Linked DNA regions of Homo sapiens: region 1 is linked to region 2. The links come from fine-mapping of genetic effects on gene expression. Tissue or cell type: skeletal muscle. Region 2 holds a variant in brackets; the other region holds the start of a gene. All regions are shown on one strand. Distances are between the middles of the regions.

Region 1 (8,301 bases), 140 kb after region 2:
TACTGTCTTTCTCCGTCTTTCTTTTCCTTTTTTTTTTTTTTTTTGAGACGGAGTCTCACTCTGTCGCCCAGGCTGGAGTGCAGTGGCATGAGCTTGGCTCACTGCAACCTCTACCTCCCGGGTTTCAGCGATTCTCCTGCCTCGGCCTCCCAACATGCTGGGATTACAGGCGTGAGCCACCACGCCTGGCTAATTTTTGTATTTTTAGTAGAGACGGGGTTTCACCATGTTGGTCAGGCTGGTCTTGAACTCCTGACCTCAAGCAATTCACCCACCTCGGCCTCCCAAAGTGCTGGAATTAGAGGCGTGAGCCCCCACGCCCGGCCTACTGTTTTTCTTATGACTAGCACTATATTGATGGAGAGGAGATGCGGGCAGTGGTTTCCTGCAGAAGTGACAGCCTCAGAGTGGGGTTCCAACAGAAAGGATGGTAGCAGGTCATTGTCAACTGTGTATCCCTACCTAGAACAACCAAAACCTTGGGGTCAGAAAAAGATAGGCTGGGGGTATTGTAGGACACATCTTTGAAAATGGTCGTCCCCAGGGAGAAACAGCTAAATGGGTGCAGCTACCTGGTTTCACCGCATAGACGCAATTAATTACTCAGCATCTCACACTATAATGGGGCGCCCTGGGCATTTAGCTACACAGCGGAAAGCCACACCTGAGTGTGTGTGGCAGCCTTGGGGCGAGGTGGAGAGGGTTGTTGCAGTGGCCCTGCCGCCACAGAAGGAGAGATGTCCTTTGAGGAAACCATGGCAATGTGTGGTCTTGCGGAGAGATGGGGCTTAGGAATTGGATGCAATTGACTGAAAATGGGAAGTGGGTGGCAGGAATGGGGTTTAGGAATTGGGGGAGGAGAATCAGTTCTGGGATGTAGTGATAAAGAGGTCCAAGGAATGATTGCATGCAGATACTTGGTTTTCAATGATTCAGGAGTCCAGAGAAGGCTATAATTGGTATGGGTGTCCCAGTGGGTCAGGTATCCGAGGTCTTGGAATTTGGGAGAGTGGTAGTCTCTGGGATATGGGATGTGGGGAGTCTAAGGAGTCAATAAGGGATCTAAAGGGTTGGTGATAGGTGACTTCTTTATTGTGGTAAAATACATAAATAATACAATTTACCATTTAAATCACTTTAAAGTGTATAATTCAGTGACATTATTACACTTACGGTGTTGTGCAACCATCACTACAATCTAGTTCCAGAAATTTTTCATCACCCCAAAAAGAAACCCTGTATCCATTAAGCAGTCACTTCCCATTCTTCCCACCCCTTCCTTCCCCAAACTCCTGGCATCCACTAATCTGCTGTCTCTAGTCTCTAATGATTTACCTATTCTGGATATTTCATATAAATAGAATTACACAGTATATAGCGTATTAACAAACTGTCCTCAAAGTTCCTTCATGTTGTAACATGCCTCAGTACTTCATTCCTTTTTATGACTGAATAATATTCCATTGCATGGGTAATACCATCAGTTGGTGGACATTTGAGTTGCTTCCAATGAGAGGATTATCTGAGTATTGTGAAATGTACTGCTATGAACATTCTTGTACAAGTTTATGTTTAAACACCTTATTCAATTATTTTGGGCATATACCTAGAAGTGAAATTGCTGGATTATATGGTAATTCTATGATTAACTTATGAAGAAATAACCAAACTGTGTTTTTTTTTTACAGTGGCTGTACCTTTTTATATTACAACCAGTAATGCACAAGGGTTCCAGTTTCTTCACAACCTCGCCATCCATCATTTGTTATAATCATGTGCCACATAATGATGTTTTGGTCAATGAGGGACCACATATACAGTAGTGGTCCCATAAGATTATAGCAGAGCTGAAAATTTTCTTTTTATAAAATTGTATTTATTATTATTATTTTTTTTCCAACTTTTATGGAGCTGAAAAGTTTATACTGCCTAATGACATTTTGATGATCCTGGCACTGTGTGTACCTAGGCTAATGTGTTTGTGTCTTAGTTTTTAACAAAAAAGTCTGGAGGCTGAGGCAAGAGAATTGCTTGATCTGCCCTATTAATTGCAATTTTCACAGTTAACTAGTACTATTTTTATTTAAATAATATTACCTGGGAAGCGGAGGTTGCAGTGAGTTAAGATCACGCCACTGCACTCCAGCCTGGGCGAGAGAGTGAGACTCTGTCTCAAAATAAAATAAAATTAAATTAAAATAAAAAAATTAAAAAAATTTTTAAGTAGAAGATTATAGAATAAGGATATAAAGAAAATATTTGTGTACAGCTATACAATGTGTTTGAAGCTAATTTATTACAAGAGAGTCAAAACATTTTTAAAAATTAAAAGGTTTATAAAGAAATTATAGTAAGCTAAGGTTAATTTATTACCGACAAAAAAATTCAAATAAATTTAGTGTAGCCTAAGCATACAGTACATATAAAGTCTACAGTAGTATACAGTACTGCCCTAGCCTTCACATTCACTCACCGCTCAGTCACTGACTCACCCGGAGTAACTTCCAGTCTTGCAAGCTCCATCCACGGTAAGTGCTGTATACCGGTATACGATTTCTTATCTTTTATACCATATTTTTACTGTACCCTTTCTATGTTTAGACATGTTTAGATACACAAATACCATTGAGTATAATTGTTTACAGTATCCAGGCAATTTGGATTTGTAGCCTCGAAGTGATAGGCTGTACCATCAGGCTACATCATCTAGGTTTGTGTATGTACACTCTATAATGTTCACATAATGATGAAGTCACCTAACCATGCATTACTCAGAAAGTATCCACAGAATTACACAATGCATGACCATATTTACATTCTGCTTTTTAAAAATCTTAAATTAGGCTGGATGTGGTGGCTCACGCCTGTGATCCCAACACTTTGAGACACCAAGGCAGGCAGATCACTTGAGCCCAGGAGTTTGAGACCAGCCTGGGCAACATCGCAAAACCCCATCCCAACAAAAAAATACAAGAAATTAGCTGGGTGTGGTGATGCACACCTGTGGTCCCAGATACTCAGGAGTCTGAGGCAGGAGGATTATCTGAGCCTGGAGAGGTGGAGTCTGCAGTGAACCATAATTGCACCACAGCACTCCAGACTGTGTGACAGAATGAGACCCTGTCTCGAAAAAAATCTTAAATTTATGTATCTTAAGAATATACATTAATATAGAGTTTAAATATCAAATAAAGAGGGTTTTTTAAAGTTGAAACAATGTATCAGAGGATAAAAAACCATAAAACATTTGTTTAAATTTAAAGGATTTGTTTAATCTGCCCTATTAATTGCAATTTTCACAGTTAACTAGTACTATTTTTTATTTAAATAATAGTATGTATGTAACAGAATAGTAAAGATGTAACCTGTGGATGCTGTTTTACAGCAGCAGAAACTGGAACACATGCAGTCTCATGATTGTCCTACTCTTTTGCCAGATCATTGCATTGTCTGCCCAGGCACCCCTCATCCCATCTCTCTCCATCCCTTTTCTTACCTTTTCATGTTCCTTGTCTTTTCATGACAGCATTTATCAATGTCTGAAAGTAGAATGTTGTTGATTGACTCTCTCTTCAACTAGAACATAAGCAATGAGCGGCCCAGCCTTTGTCCCACACACTGCAGTGTGTCCCACTTCTAAGAAAGTGTCCAACACACAGCAGGAACTCAGTCAGCATTTCTTGAATGAATTAAGTGAAGTGATGCATACAGGCCACATTCTGAGCTGCTGGAGGAGCCAGTAGTTGATTACCAAACTCTAGTCCTTTATCTTGGTGTCCTGATGTCCTGACTGATACACAGTTTGTAGGCAAATAGCTGGTGGGGTTTAGTAGTATGGGATAGAATAAAGGGAGATGTAATTGGGACACTCTCCACATTATCTGCCCCCATGAAAAGCTAGTTCCAGGTGTTGCCATCTCTGCCCCACACTGGGCTTGCCTTAGTCCTCGTTCCCGCCTTTTCCAGACAGCAGTGCTGAGAAGCAGGAGCCCCTGAGCTTGGAGACGCAGGAAGAGCCCTGGGAGGCCCAGATCAAAGGGAGGCAGTCAGCTCATGGAGCCGAGGAATGTTCTGCTGACACCCACCCCGAGGGTATCCGGTATGTTTCTGTGCACCAGCGACCCCTCCACACCTCACCAGATTGGTTCCCCAGCCCCGTGGGACCCAATTCCGGGTCAATTCCAATTTGATTCCAGTCCAGAATCAAATCAGAAGAGCAATCCCGAGTGCCCACCTCACGGTCTGAAGCACCTCCTCCTACACCCGGACCCAAACACGAGGTCGGCTCAAGGAGGCACTGAGGTCACGACAGTCAGGGTCCTGCGCTGCTTGTCGCATGCAGTCTCCTTCCCCGAACCGCCGCCTGCACGGCCTCCACTGTTTTCCTATTGGGCTGCAGCCTGAGAGCCCTGACAATGCGGCCCACAAACCGGGAACGCGAAAGTGCACGTACCAGGCGCGATCACCAGGCGCTAGCGCTGAGGGGGGACTCGCGTCACAGTAACCGCCACCGTTGCCGGGGGACTGGCCCCAGCGGCTTGGCCCCCAGGCGTCTGTGGCAGTGCGTCCCCTCTCCGCGGGATCGTCGCCATGGTCCTGCGATCCTAGGAGTCGGGCAAGGCCGAACCTGCCTGAAGAAACCTCAAGCGGAGATTCAAGGAAGCACCACGTGATCCCTAAGGATCCCAAAGATGCGTCGGGCATGCATGGGCGGTGTGAGGGTGCGTCTCCCTGACAGGTGTCCCCGCTGGGATTTCGAGGTACGGCCTGCCTGTGTTCCCCGGGGCGCTCTCTTTCCGGAGGGGTTTCCTGGCAGAGAGCAGAACCGCGCAGCCTCAGGAGCTGCCTGGCTGTGTGTGTTTCTGTGCGACTGTTGGATGTTTCCGTGTGTCTTTCTGTGTGTGCGTGTGAGTGTGTGTGTGGTGTGCGGTGAAAGAAATGTGGCTCGTGCAGTGAAGCGCGGTTTCTCTGTAGTTCGCCTACGCTCTGATGCGCCCGTCTCTTTGGCCGGGCTTGGGTTGCGGGGCAAGCGTTCTTTGTTTCGCTCTTGGTTCCTAAAGCCTCGGTGAAGTGGGGGGCTGGCTGCGACCCGCAAACGTCCAAATCACCTCCCCTCCCAAGCCGCCCACTCTTCCAGAAAGAAGACCAGCACACGACAACCAAGAACAAATTCCTCCAGGGGCCCATGGTCCTGCGGCACACCCAAGGCTGGACGGACCCTAGCTGTCCTGTCCTCAGTACCCCCTTGAGCCCACTTCTAATTCGGTGGCTGGCGGAGTCGCAGCTTCAGGACCTGAGGCGGGCACTCCTTCATCCTCTTCAGATTTCATTCTGGATTAAAGGATGTGTGCAGAAAAAAGGTCAGATGGGGGTGAAGATACAATCCGCTGAGGTGTGGAGGAGGTCTCGCACCTTCACCTGCAGAACAGGTGCAGACAGATGTCAAAGAAACTGTTTCCAACGCCATCCCCTTTTCCTCTTCACTGTACAACCTGTCCACACCATGGCGCTGTGCTGGCGATAGAAGACACGAGTGTTCGGAGAACCTTTGGACCGAAGACTGTCGCCTTTCTGGCCAGGTCCCCTGTTGGACCCTGGTTCCCCGAGGCACATGGGAGTGGGATGGATTGATCCTGCCTGGGCTGCGGCCTCTACTCTGTTCTCCCTCTTTTCTTGCCTTCCCTGATTCTCGTCGGCCCAGGTTTTCCTTGGTCTGGCTCACAGTCCTCCAGAACGTCCTTCACAGCAAATGTTTCCCAGTTCGTCCAGGACCACCTTGGCGGGGACGTAGGTGATGAGTGTTTCCTTCTCAACACTCACATTTCTTAATGACTGGGTAGCTGTGATGCTCTTGGAACCGTGGGTGCCCGTAGCTTTCCCCAATAAGGAAACTCTTGGTCTCCCCATTGCATCAGATGGCTGCATGATTCACATAGAATGAGAGGTAGCCAGCCGTAGCTGGCCTTTGCCTTCTAATGAAGGCTATGTTTCATCTCATCTGCTGGTGTTTTCTCATTGTTGAGGGGTCTCCCATTGCTCTGTTCCTGGCTGGGACTGCCTCTCAGCACTGCACCTTTTCGTTGCCAGGGATTTCACGGAGCAAAAGGGACTGGGGGTTAGCTGGGTGTAGACCCGGTGGTGGGTTGTGATCCCGGTGTGGGTGCTGGATCACTTTGCAGGATCCTCTTGGCTCCTCTGGCAGGAATCCCTGGAGGAGGCTTGGACTCCGGCACAGGCCCTCCTATGGTTTCAGGTGTGCTTTGCTTGTGCTTCGCTTTCTTGGGGGTATCCTCAGTGGCCCTCGCCAGCATGCCTGGATATCCCTTTTGGGCTTGGATTCACCCCAGAAGGCCTCTGAGACACTCTCTCCACATTTTCTGCCCCCATGGGATGCCAGTTTTAGGTGTTGCCACCTCTGCTTCACATCGGGCTTGACTTTGTCCTTGTTCCCGCCTTTTCTGGACAGCAATGCTGAGAAGCCGAAGGCCCTGGTCTTGGAGACCAGGACAGGGCCCTGGGAGGCCCAGGTCGAAAGGGGGCCAGTCAGCTCATGGGGCGAGGGAATGTCCTGCTCACACCCTCCACTGGGGTCTCAGGTATGTTTTCCTACCCCAGCGACCCCTCAACTCCTCACCAGATTGGATCCCCAGCCCCATGGGACCTGATTCCTGCCCACACCCTCCAATCTAGAATCAAATCAGAGAGCAGTCCCGAGTGCCCACCTCAAGGTCTGAAGCGCCTCCTCCTCCACCCAGACCCGTACACGAAGTGGGCTGAAGGAGGCACTGAGGTCAGGACTGTCAGGGTCCTGCGCTGCTGGTCTCACGCAGCCTTCTTCCCCGGGCCGCAGCCAGCACGGCCTCCACCGTTTTCCTATGGGCCCTGAGAGCCCTGACGTTGCGGCAGCGCCAGCCGGGCACGCGAATGCGCATGCGCCAGGCGCGCGTCACCAGGCGCGACGGCTGAGCCGGGGCTCGCGTCACAGTGACAGCCACCGTTGCCTGGGGACGGGCCCTAGCGGCTTGGCGGAGCTGGAGCCCTCCCTGGCAGTGCGTCGGCGCTGGGCTATGGCCCCCTCCTCTCCGGGGGATCGTCGCCTTGGTCCCCCGACCCTAGGAGTCGGGCAGGGCAGAACCAGGCTAAAGAAACGTCCAGCGTAGCTTCAAGGATGCACCGCGTGATCCCTATCGGATCTCCCCGACGCGTCAGGCCTGCCTAGACGGTGCTGGGAGCGCGTCTCCTTGAACGTTGTCCCGCCTGGGATTGCGAGGTAGGTACCGCCTGCCTGTGTGTACCGGGGCTGCTGTCTCCGGGGAGGGGCTTCTGGCGGACAGGAGAACCAAGCAGCCTCAGGAGCTGCCTGGGTGTGTGTGTTTCTGTGCGAGTGTTGCATATCTCTGTGTGTGTTTCTGTGCAAGTGTTGCATGTCTGTGTGTGTGGGGGGGGTGGTGTCTGGTGAAAAGAATGTGTCTCGTGCGGTGGAGCGCCGTTTCTCTGTAGTCCGCGGGCTCTCTTATGCGCCCTCTTGTGGTCCCAAGTGTGCTTTTCTTGTTTTTCGCTTTCTTGGGGGTCATTGATTTCAGCTCTAAGCTTAATTCCTTTTCTGAGTCTCACCTGTTTCTTTAAGTGGGAACTTAAACCATTGATATGTATTTAAAAGCATACATTTCCCTCAAAGTGCTGCTTTAGTTGCATTCCACAAAATTTTATATGCTGTTATTTTTGACTCCAAATAGGTAATTTTTTACTTGTCCCATAGTTTACTTAAATGTGTGTTGCTTAATTTGCAAACATTTTTTAATTTTGACATTAATTTCTGGCTTAATTCTACTGTGGTTAGAAAACAGATTTTCTGATTTCAATCCTTTTCAATATATTGACAATTTATGGCTCAGAATATAAACAAGCTTGCTAAAGTTCTTTGTATAAGTGAAAACACTGCTGCTGCTCTTAGGTGGACTAGTCTATAAGTATCAATTACAACAAGTTGGCTATTAGCACCGTTCAGGTATCTTATATCTTTATAGATTTTCTATATACTTTTAAAAGTTAATGAGAGAACAGTATTAAAATCTCAAAATATGATTCTGAGTTCATTTATTTTTATTTCTAGCAGTTTTTAATGTATTGTTTAGTTCTGGTACTAGGCACAAGTACTTGTATGATTGCTTTGTCTTCTTGGTCAATACACTTCTATAGTATTATAAAATATGCCTTTTTAGAATAAATCCCTGGTAATATTCTTTGTTTCAAAGACAATTTGTTGTGAGGGCCGGGTGCAGTGGGTCATGCCTGTAATCC
Region 2 (8,301 bases):
CCCGGTGTGTGATGTTCCCCTTCCTGTGTATGTTACATATGTATACATGTGCCATGTTGGTGTGCTGCACCCATTAACTCATCATTTATATTAGGTATATCTCCCAATGCTATCCCTCCCCCATCCCCCCACCCCACAACAGGCCCCAGTGTGTGATGTTCCCCTGCCTGTGTCCAAGTGTTCTCGTCGTTCAAGTCTCACCTATGAGTGAGAACATGCAGTGTTTGGTTTTTTGTCCTTGCGATAGTTTGCTGAGAATGATGGTTTTCAGCTTCATCCATGTCCCTACAAAGGACATGAACTCATTTTTAATGGCTGCATAGTATTCCATGGTGTATATGTGCCACATTTTCTTAATCCAGTCTATCATTGTTGGACATTTGGGTTGCTTCCAAGTCTTTGCTATTGTGAGTAGTGCCGCAATAAACATATGTGTGCATGTGTCTTTATACCAGCATGATTTATATTCCTTTGGGTATATACCCAGTAATGGGATGGCTGGGTCAAATGGTATTTCTAGTTCTAGATCCCTGAGGAATCGCCACACTGTCTTCTACAATGGTTGAACTAGTTTACAGTCCCACAAAGAGTGTAAAAGTGTTCCAATTTCTCTACATCTTCTCCAGCACCTGTTGTTTCCTGACTTTTTAATGATTGCCATTCTAACTGGTGTGAGATGATATCTCATTGTGGTTTTGATTTGCATTTCTCTGATGGCCAGTGATGATGAGCATTTTTTCATGTGTCTGTTCGCTGCATAAATGTCTTCTTTGGAGAAGTGTCTGTTCATATCCTTTGCCCACTTTTTGATGGGGTTGTTTTTTTCTTGTAAATTTGTTTGAGTTCGTTGTAGATTCTGGATATTAGCCCTTTGTCAGATGAGTAGATTGCAAAAATTTTCTCCCATTCTGTAGGTTGTCTGTTCACTCTGGTGGTAGTTTCTTTTGCTGTGCAGAAGCTCTTTAGTTTAATTAGATCCCATTTGTCAATTTTGGCTTTTGTTGCCATTGCTTGTGGTGTTTTAGACATGAAGTCCTTGCCCATGCCTATGTCCTGAATGGTATTGACTAGGTTTTCTTCTAGGGTTTTTATGGTTTTAGGTCTAACATTTAAGTCTTTAATCCATCTTCTCCCTCTCTTTTAAATAGAAACAGGGTCTCACTCTCTTGTCCAGGCTGGAGCACAGTGGCATGACCATAGCTCACTGCAGCCTCGAACTCAAAGAACTCCCAGCCTCTACTGATCCTTCCACCTCAGCCTCCCAAGTAGCTGCACCACCATGTCCAGCTATTTTTTTTTTTTTTTAACTTGTAGAGACAGGGTTGTGACTTGTTGTTCAGGCTGGTCTTAAACTCCTGAGCTCAAGCAATCTTCCCACCTTGGCCTTTCAAAGTGCTGGGAATACGAGTGTGAGCCACCGCGCTGGGACTCATTTAATTTTATAAAGAACATATATTCTACCACCCTATTCTACTGTCAGAATTTTATTAAAATTACCTGTGTTCTTTTCATACCATAGATTAGACCTAAAATGGATTCCCACTTCACCCCCTACTGCTGCTTTGATTCCTGTTTCCCTGCACATACAGTGGGCCACACCTGCAAAAATCACAAGGCTGACTTCAGGAATCAGTTTTGATCTTCGCTGTTGTACCTTAAAATTTTTTTTAACTTTTATTTTAGATTCAGGGAGTACATGTACAGGTTTGTTACATGGATATATTGCATGATACTGAGGTTTGGGGTACAAATGATCCTGTCACCCAGATGGTGAGCATGGTACCCACTAGGTAGTTTTTTAGCCCTTACCCCACTCCATCCCTCCCCCCAGTAGTCCCCATTGTCTATTGTTCCCATCTTTATGTCCATGTGTACCCATGTAGTACCCTTATTAACTGTGTTGTGGAGCTTACACATGAGAAAGGCACTTTCTTGGATTCGTGTACATGGCTCAAGAGAAAATGGTTAGAACTGATAGAGACCCTGCCAGGCCGGTAGCTCATGCCTGTAATCCCAGCACTTTGGGAGGGCGAAGGCGGGTTAATCACTTGAGGTCGGGAGTTTGAGAACTGATAGAGACCTTAATTACCTGGTCGCTGTTTTTTCAACTGGGATTCCAGGAAGGAATCTCTGGTTAGATCCCACAGTATTCACAACTGATCCTTCCTGCTGTTGACTGATGGGAGCAAAGCTCCACCCAGATTACCTATCTCAATTAGGTTCTTTGAAACTCAGGCCACGTTAGGGATAAAAACAATGGAATTCTATCTGTACAAGTGACTGTTACTCTAGTATAGGGCAATCCCATTTCTCCTTTAAATATCATCTCTTTTTTAAAAATTTTTAGAGTTGGGGGTACATGTGCAGGTTACCTGGGTATATTGTGTGATGCTGAGGTCTGGGGTATAAATGACCCTGCCACCCACGTACTGAGCACGATACCCACTGGTTACTTTTTCAATCCTTGCCCCCTTTTATGTTTTCATTGACTCTTATGTTTTGGTCTTTGAAGATTGCTTAACTGATTTTCTCCCAGAAGTCAGCTTTAAAATCCCATTCCAGAAGCTTACTGACAATTTATAAGGCCAGAAAAGTAAAAAGCAAGCATATAGATTGGAAAGAACAAAACATAACTGGCCCCATTTGCAGATGATATTATTTCTACATAGAAAATCTAAAGGAATTTACAAACAAGAATATCACACACACACATCCAGTGAAGCAGTTAAGTTTAAATCTAATACATTTACCGGAGCTAAAAATTACAAAACAATGATTAAAACTGATGAACTCAAAGAAGACCTACATAAGACACATACTGTGTTTATGGAGTGGAAGGCTTAGTATAGTAAAGACTTCCATTCTTCCACAATGAAATAAAGGCTTAATGCAATTTCTATGAAAATTTAAGCAGGGCTTTTGAAAACACAGACAGGCTGATCCAAAATTTATATGGAAGAGCAAAGAAAGTGGAATAGATAAATAAATTTTGAAAATGAATAATAGGTCAGGTGTGGTGGCTCACGCCTGTAATTCCAGCATTTTGGGAGACCAAGGCCAGAGGATTCCTTGAACTCAAGAGTTTGAGACCAGCCTGGGCAACATGGCAAAACCATCTCTACTCAAAATACAAAAATTAGCTGAGTGTGCTGACACACACGTCTAGTCTCAGCTACTTGGCTTGGAGAATCATCTGATTCTGCAGTGAGCTATGACTAGAACCATTGCACTCCAGCCTGGGTGACAGGAGTGAGACCCTGCCTCAAAAAAAAAAAAGAAAAAGAAAAAGTAAAAAAATGAGAGCAATCAGTATACAGCTATAGTAATCAAGACAGTGTGGCATTGATAGAGGGATAGATGCATAGATTTTTGGAAAAGAGCATTCAGAAACACAGAAGTAGGCCAAGCAATTCAATGGAGAAACAATATTTTTTTTCAACAAATAGCACTGTAACAAGTAGACATCCAAAAAATGAACCTTGACCTAAATTTTATTCCTTATAAAAAGTTAACTCAAAATGTATCATAGACTAATTTTCACATTCAGCTTTAAAATTTTTGTGTCTGCAATAAACTGAAAACAAAACTATTTTTAGAATGCAAGTAACTGACAAAGGATTTGTGTCCAGAATATATTGTAACACACACAAAAAAGAAAAAAATCCATTATGAAAAAACTATAGAGATAGAGAATAGACTAGTAATTGCCAGGGGTTAGGGATGGGGAGTGAGGAGGACAGGAAGATGGGTGTGACTATAAATGGATAGAACAAGGGACCTTTGTGGTGCTGTCAGTTTTATAGATTGACTATGGGGAGTGGCAGTTACACTAATCTGTGCATGAGATAAAACTGTATAGAACTGTACAGACACATACACAAGTGCCTATAAAACTGGTAATGTTTGTGGATTGTACCAATGTCAAATTTGATTCTGTACTGTTATATAAGGTGTTACCATTAGGAGAAACGAGGTGTGGGGTACAAGGACTAAATAGTACTATACAGCATTATCTGTATAACTTCCTATAAATCCATAATTGTTTCCAAGAAAAACATTTTTGAAGTTCCAGTAGAAAAAAACAGACTTAATATATGAATAGACTATTCACAGAAAATGAAATTGGAGGCAACATATTTGTTTTTTTGTTTGTTTTTTGAGATGGAGTCTCACTCTGTTGCCCAGGCTGGAATGCAGTGGCGTGATCTCAGCTCACTGCAACCTCTGCCTCCTGGGTTCAAGCAATTCTCGTGCTTCAGCCTCCCAAGTAGCTGGGATAAGAGGCACACACAACCACACCCAGCTAATTTTTGTATTTTTAGTTGAGACGGGGTTACACCATGTTGGCCAGGCTGCTCACAAACTCCTGACCTCAAGTGATCCACCTGCCTCAGCCTCCCAAAGTGCTGGGATTACAGGTGTGAGCCACCACTGCACCTGGCCACGACATAAATATTTGAAAGGCCTGAATATAAAACATCTGTGGAACAGAATGAAGTGAATTTTTCACATCCACTGGGCCCTTACCTGGCATACATAAAATCACCAGCATCTGCATCCCCATTTATTGATCCAGAAACAAAGAAAAGCTTTGTTGAGATATATAGAAATTGCTTCTACTCTAACACCAATAACTATTCTTGGCTTGATATATTAGAATGTAAACTATATTTTACAGTATGCATGAATGGTCTCTTTCCTTCACTCCAAAACCAACCCAAATGAAGGTGGATTTCTTTCCCCAAATGGATAGCCAATTATCCCAATAATAAAATAATTGTTTTGTTTCTATA[C/CTCCTT]TCAACTAGAAAAAAATTTGAGTTTAAAATTAAAAATTGGCCTCAAATAAATGCGAAAATACTGCTGATTTTATTATTCCAATTAACATGAAGAGACAGTAAACAAAATAATACCTTGTCAGGTATGTTTTGTGTAAAGACAATCTTCTATAAATGTTAGTATCTGATCAAGAATAAAAATCCATTTTAAAATTATTTCTCCAGGCCCAGGTTTCCCCCACCCATTTGATTCTTATTTTTGAGAAATTAGGAAAATAAAAGCAAGAAAAAACAATTTTAAAAACCCATATAATTAATTTGGACAACCAGATTTGTCACCACTGTCATATTTGCTTTCACTCTTTTATTAAAGAAATATTACAGATAAATATAACAACTCCCACCAAACCTTTCCCACATCCCAAAAGGCAACCAAGTCATATATGGATCCATGACCAATACACAGTACTGTTCTTTGCAAGATCTTATTAAATTATACAAATGTTATACTGTGTTCCTTTGTGCATTTTAATTTTTTCTCTCAATATTATATATTGTAATCTATCCATATAACTATAGGTAGATTTTGTTTCTAAATTCTGTATTTTATCACAGAAATGATCACACTTATTCATCTATTCCACAATTGATAAAAATTTGTTATATCCAATTTTGGGCAATACAAACCATGATTCAGGAACACAGTGATATATATCTCTTTGTGTACATTTGTGGGTGCCTGTGAGGCCAATACACCAAAATTCAACAGACTATTCCATGTTTACATGTTTTTTAAAGAAATCTTGTTACCCTAAAGTAACGGATTCTACTTTCATCATAGTTTTAAAATTTTGCTTTTTATATTCTGGTCTTTAGTTGGATTTTATTTTTGTATATGATATAAAGTAGAAAGCTAAAATTTTTCTCCTATGAACCTTCCATTTATTAAATAAGCCATTCATTCCCCAGTGATTTCAATAGCACTGTCATACACAGAATTCCTGTATCTTCTTGGATTTTTGTATGAATGCTCACTATCTTACTACTGCTTGATTTATTCACTTGGTAATACATTGTTTAAATGACAGCAGCTTTAAATAAGTACATGATATATCTAATAATAGAGTGTGTCTTCTCTACTTGCTTTGTCAAGTTTGTTTCAGCTATTTGTGTTTCTTTACTTTTCCACATAAAATTTTTGGATAAGTTTGTGAAGTTCCTTAAAATAAAACTGATGTAAACTTCAGAAGTATATTAAACTTAGTGATTTGGGAGAGAAATTATATTTTTACAATGTCAAGTCTTTTCAGACAAAATATCATTTTTCAGGTGTTCTTTTGTGCCTTTCAACATATTTTATAACTTGATAAAGACCTAACTCATTGTTGTGTTTATTCTTAGGTTTTCTATCAACACATTTTCTAATTATTTCTTGTATAAAAGTTATTTTTATAGTTCTTCGTTGATACTTGTTTTCCTTACTTAATACATTGGCTAGGAGCTCAAGTGTTGTGTTGTTATGCTGATGGAAGATACCTTGTTTCAGATTTCAATGAGAATGCTGATTAAATATTATCAATAAGATGTCTGCTGAAAGTTTCTGGTAACAGCTTTTTCATTATATAATTTGTCACCTTGGAAGAATTCTCTAATGTTTCATAAATTTGTGGCTTTTTCAGAAGGCTATCCCACATTCATAGTTTTCTACTCTGGAAGTGATCATGTAATGTGCAATGAGGTGTTAATTCCTTCAGATGGCCTTGCCATATTCACAATATTCATAGGGTTTCTAATGAGTATGAATTCTCTGGTGTCTAACAAGGTGCGACTTTTGGCTGAAAGCCTTGCCACACTCAATACAGTGATAGGGCTTCTCACCTGTATGTTTTCTCATATGAAGGGTAAGAGATGAGATTTGAGAGAAGGCTTTTCCACATTTACTACAGTCGAAGGGTTTCTCACCTGTATGTCCTCGTATATGTATAGTAAGGGATGAGCTTTGGGAGAAGGCTTTTCCACATTTATTACATTCATAGGGTTTTTCACCTGTATGGCCTCTCATGTGCACAATAAGGGAAGTTCTTTGAGAGAAGGCTTTCCCACATTCATTACATACATAGGGCTTCTCACCTGTGTGACTTCTCATATGTAAATTAAGCAGTGAGCACTGAGAGAAGGCTTTACCACATTTATCACATTCATAAGGCTTTTCCCCTGTATGACTTCTCAAATGAAGGGTAAGGGATGCAATTTGAGAGAAGGCTTTACCACATTCATTACAATCATAAGGTTTCTCTCCAGTATGAACTTTTTGATGTGTAATGAAGTTTTGCTTTTGGCTGAAGGCTTTACCACATTCATTGCATTCATAGGGTTTCTCTCCAGAATGAATTTTTTCATGAGCAATGAGATTTGATTTCTGGCTAAAGGCTTTCCCACATTCCTTACATATATAGGGTTTTTCCCCAGTATGAATTCTCTGGTGTCTAACAAGATTTGACATCTGTATAAAAGCTTTCCCACATTCATTACACTCATAAGGTTTCTCTCTAGTATGAATTTTCTGGTGTGTAATGAAGTTTTTCTTGTGGCTGAAGGCTTTTCTGCATTCCTTACATTCATAGGGTTTCTCACCAGTGTGACTTCTCATATGTACAGTAAGGGCTGAGCTTTGAGAGAAGGCTTTTCCACACTCATTACATTCATAGGGTTTTTCACCTGTATGAATTCTAACATGTATAATAAGCATGGAAAACTGAGAGAAGGCTTTACCACATTTATCACATTTATAAGGTTTTTCTCCTGTATGACTTCTCATATGAAGAGCAAGGGATGCAATTCGAGGGAAGGCTTTACCACATTCATTACATGCATAAGGTTTCTCCCCAGTATGAACTTTCTGATGTGCAATGAGGCTTTGCTTCTGGCTGAATGCTTTTCCACACTCATTACATTCATAAGGTTTCTCTCCAGTATGAATTTTTTCATGATCAATAAGATTTGATTTCTGGCTGAAGGACTTCTCACATTCCTTACATGCATAGGGCTTCTCTCCAGTATGAATTCTTTGATGTCTAATGAGATTTGACATTTTAATGAAAGCTTTACCACATTCATTACATTTGTAAGACTGCTCCCTACTGTGAATTTTATAATGTTTAATAAGTTTTTCCTTGTGACTGAAGGCTTTTCTACAGTTACTACATTCATAGGGCTTCTCTCCAGTATGAATTCTCAGATGTCTGATGAGGTCCAAAGTCTGATTGAAGCCTTTTCCACAATGATTACACTTAAAGGGGGTAATGACAAAATGGGATGAGCTATTACCATATGATTTCACAGGTTCATTATATTCACAATGCTCCTTTCTCATAAGGCATTTCACATTATTATGACAGTCAAAATTATGTTCTAAACACTTTCCAAATAAGTCATACTCATAGAGATTGTGTCTGGAAGGGAAAAAATCAGAGTTCAGAGGAAATACATTTGCAAATTTCTTTTGACATTCATTGCCTTTTTCTTCAGT

What was found. PIP is the estimated chance that this variant, and not a neighbour inherited with it, causes the effect.
Region 1: ZNF571-AS1 starts here. The variant in region 2 is the best candidate, but not a certain one, in a credible set for the expression of ZNF571-AS1 in skeletal muscle (GTEx, PIP 0.56).

Annotation. Positions count from the first base shown.
Region 1 is chr19:37,544,396-37,552,696 of GRCh38, forward strand. ZNF571-AS1 (ZNF571 antisense RNA 1) reads left to right here and starts at 4,554. Exons shown (of 6, transcript NR_038248.1): 1 at 4,554-4,760; 2 at 6,467-6,596. LOC124904708 reads right to left here and starts at 6,944. Exons shown (of 2, transcript XR_007067248.1): 1 at 3,497-6,944. It also overlaps a transcript of ZNF540 not described here.
Region 2 is chr19:37,406,036-37,414,336 of GRCh38, forward strand. It overlaps ZNF569 (zinc finger protein 569), which reads right to left. Exons shown (of 6, transcript NM_152484.3): 6 at 5,122-8,301. The coding sequence ends at 6,562. Among named protein-coding and RNA genes, the nearest start is that of ZNF527, 39 kb to the left of the region's middle. The variant C/CTCCTT (reference allele first, on the strand shown) is at 4,794.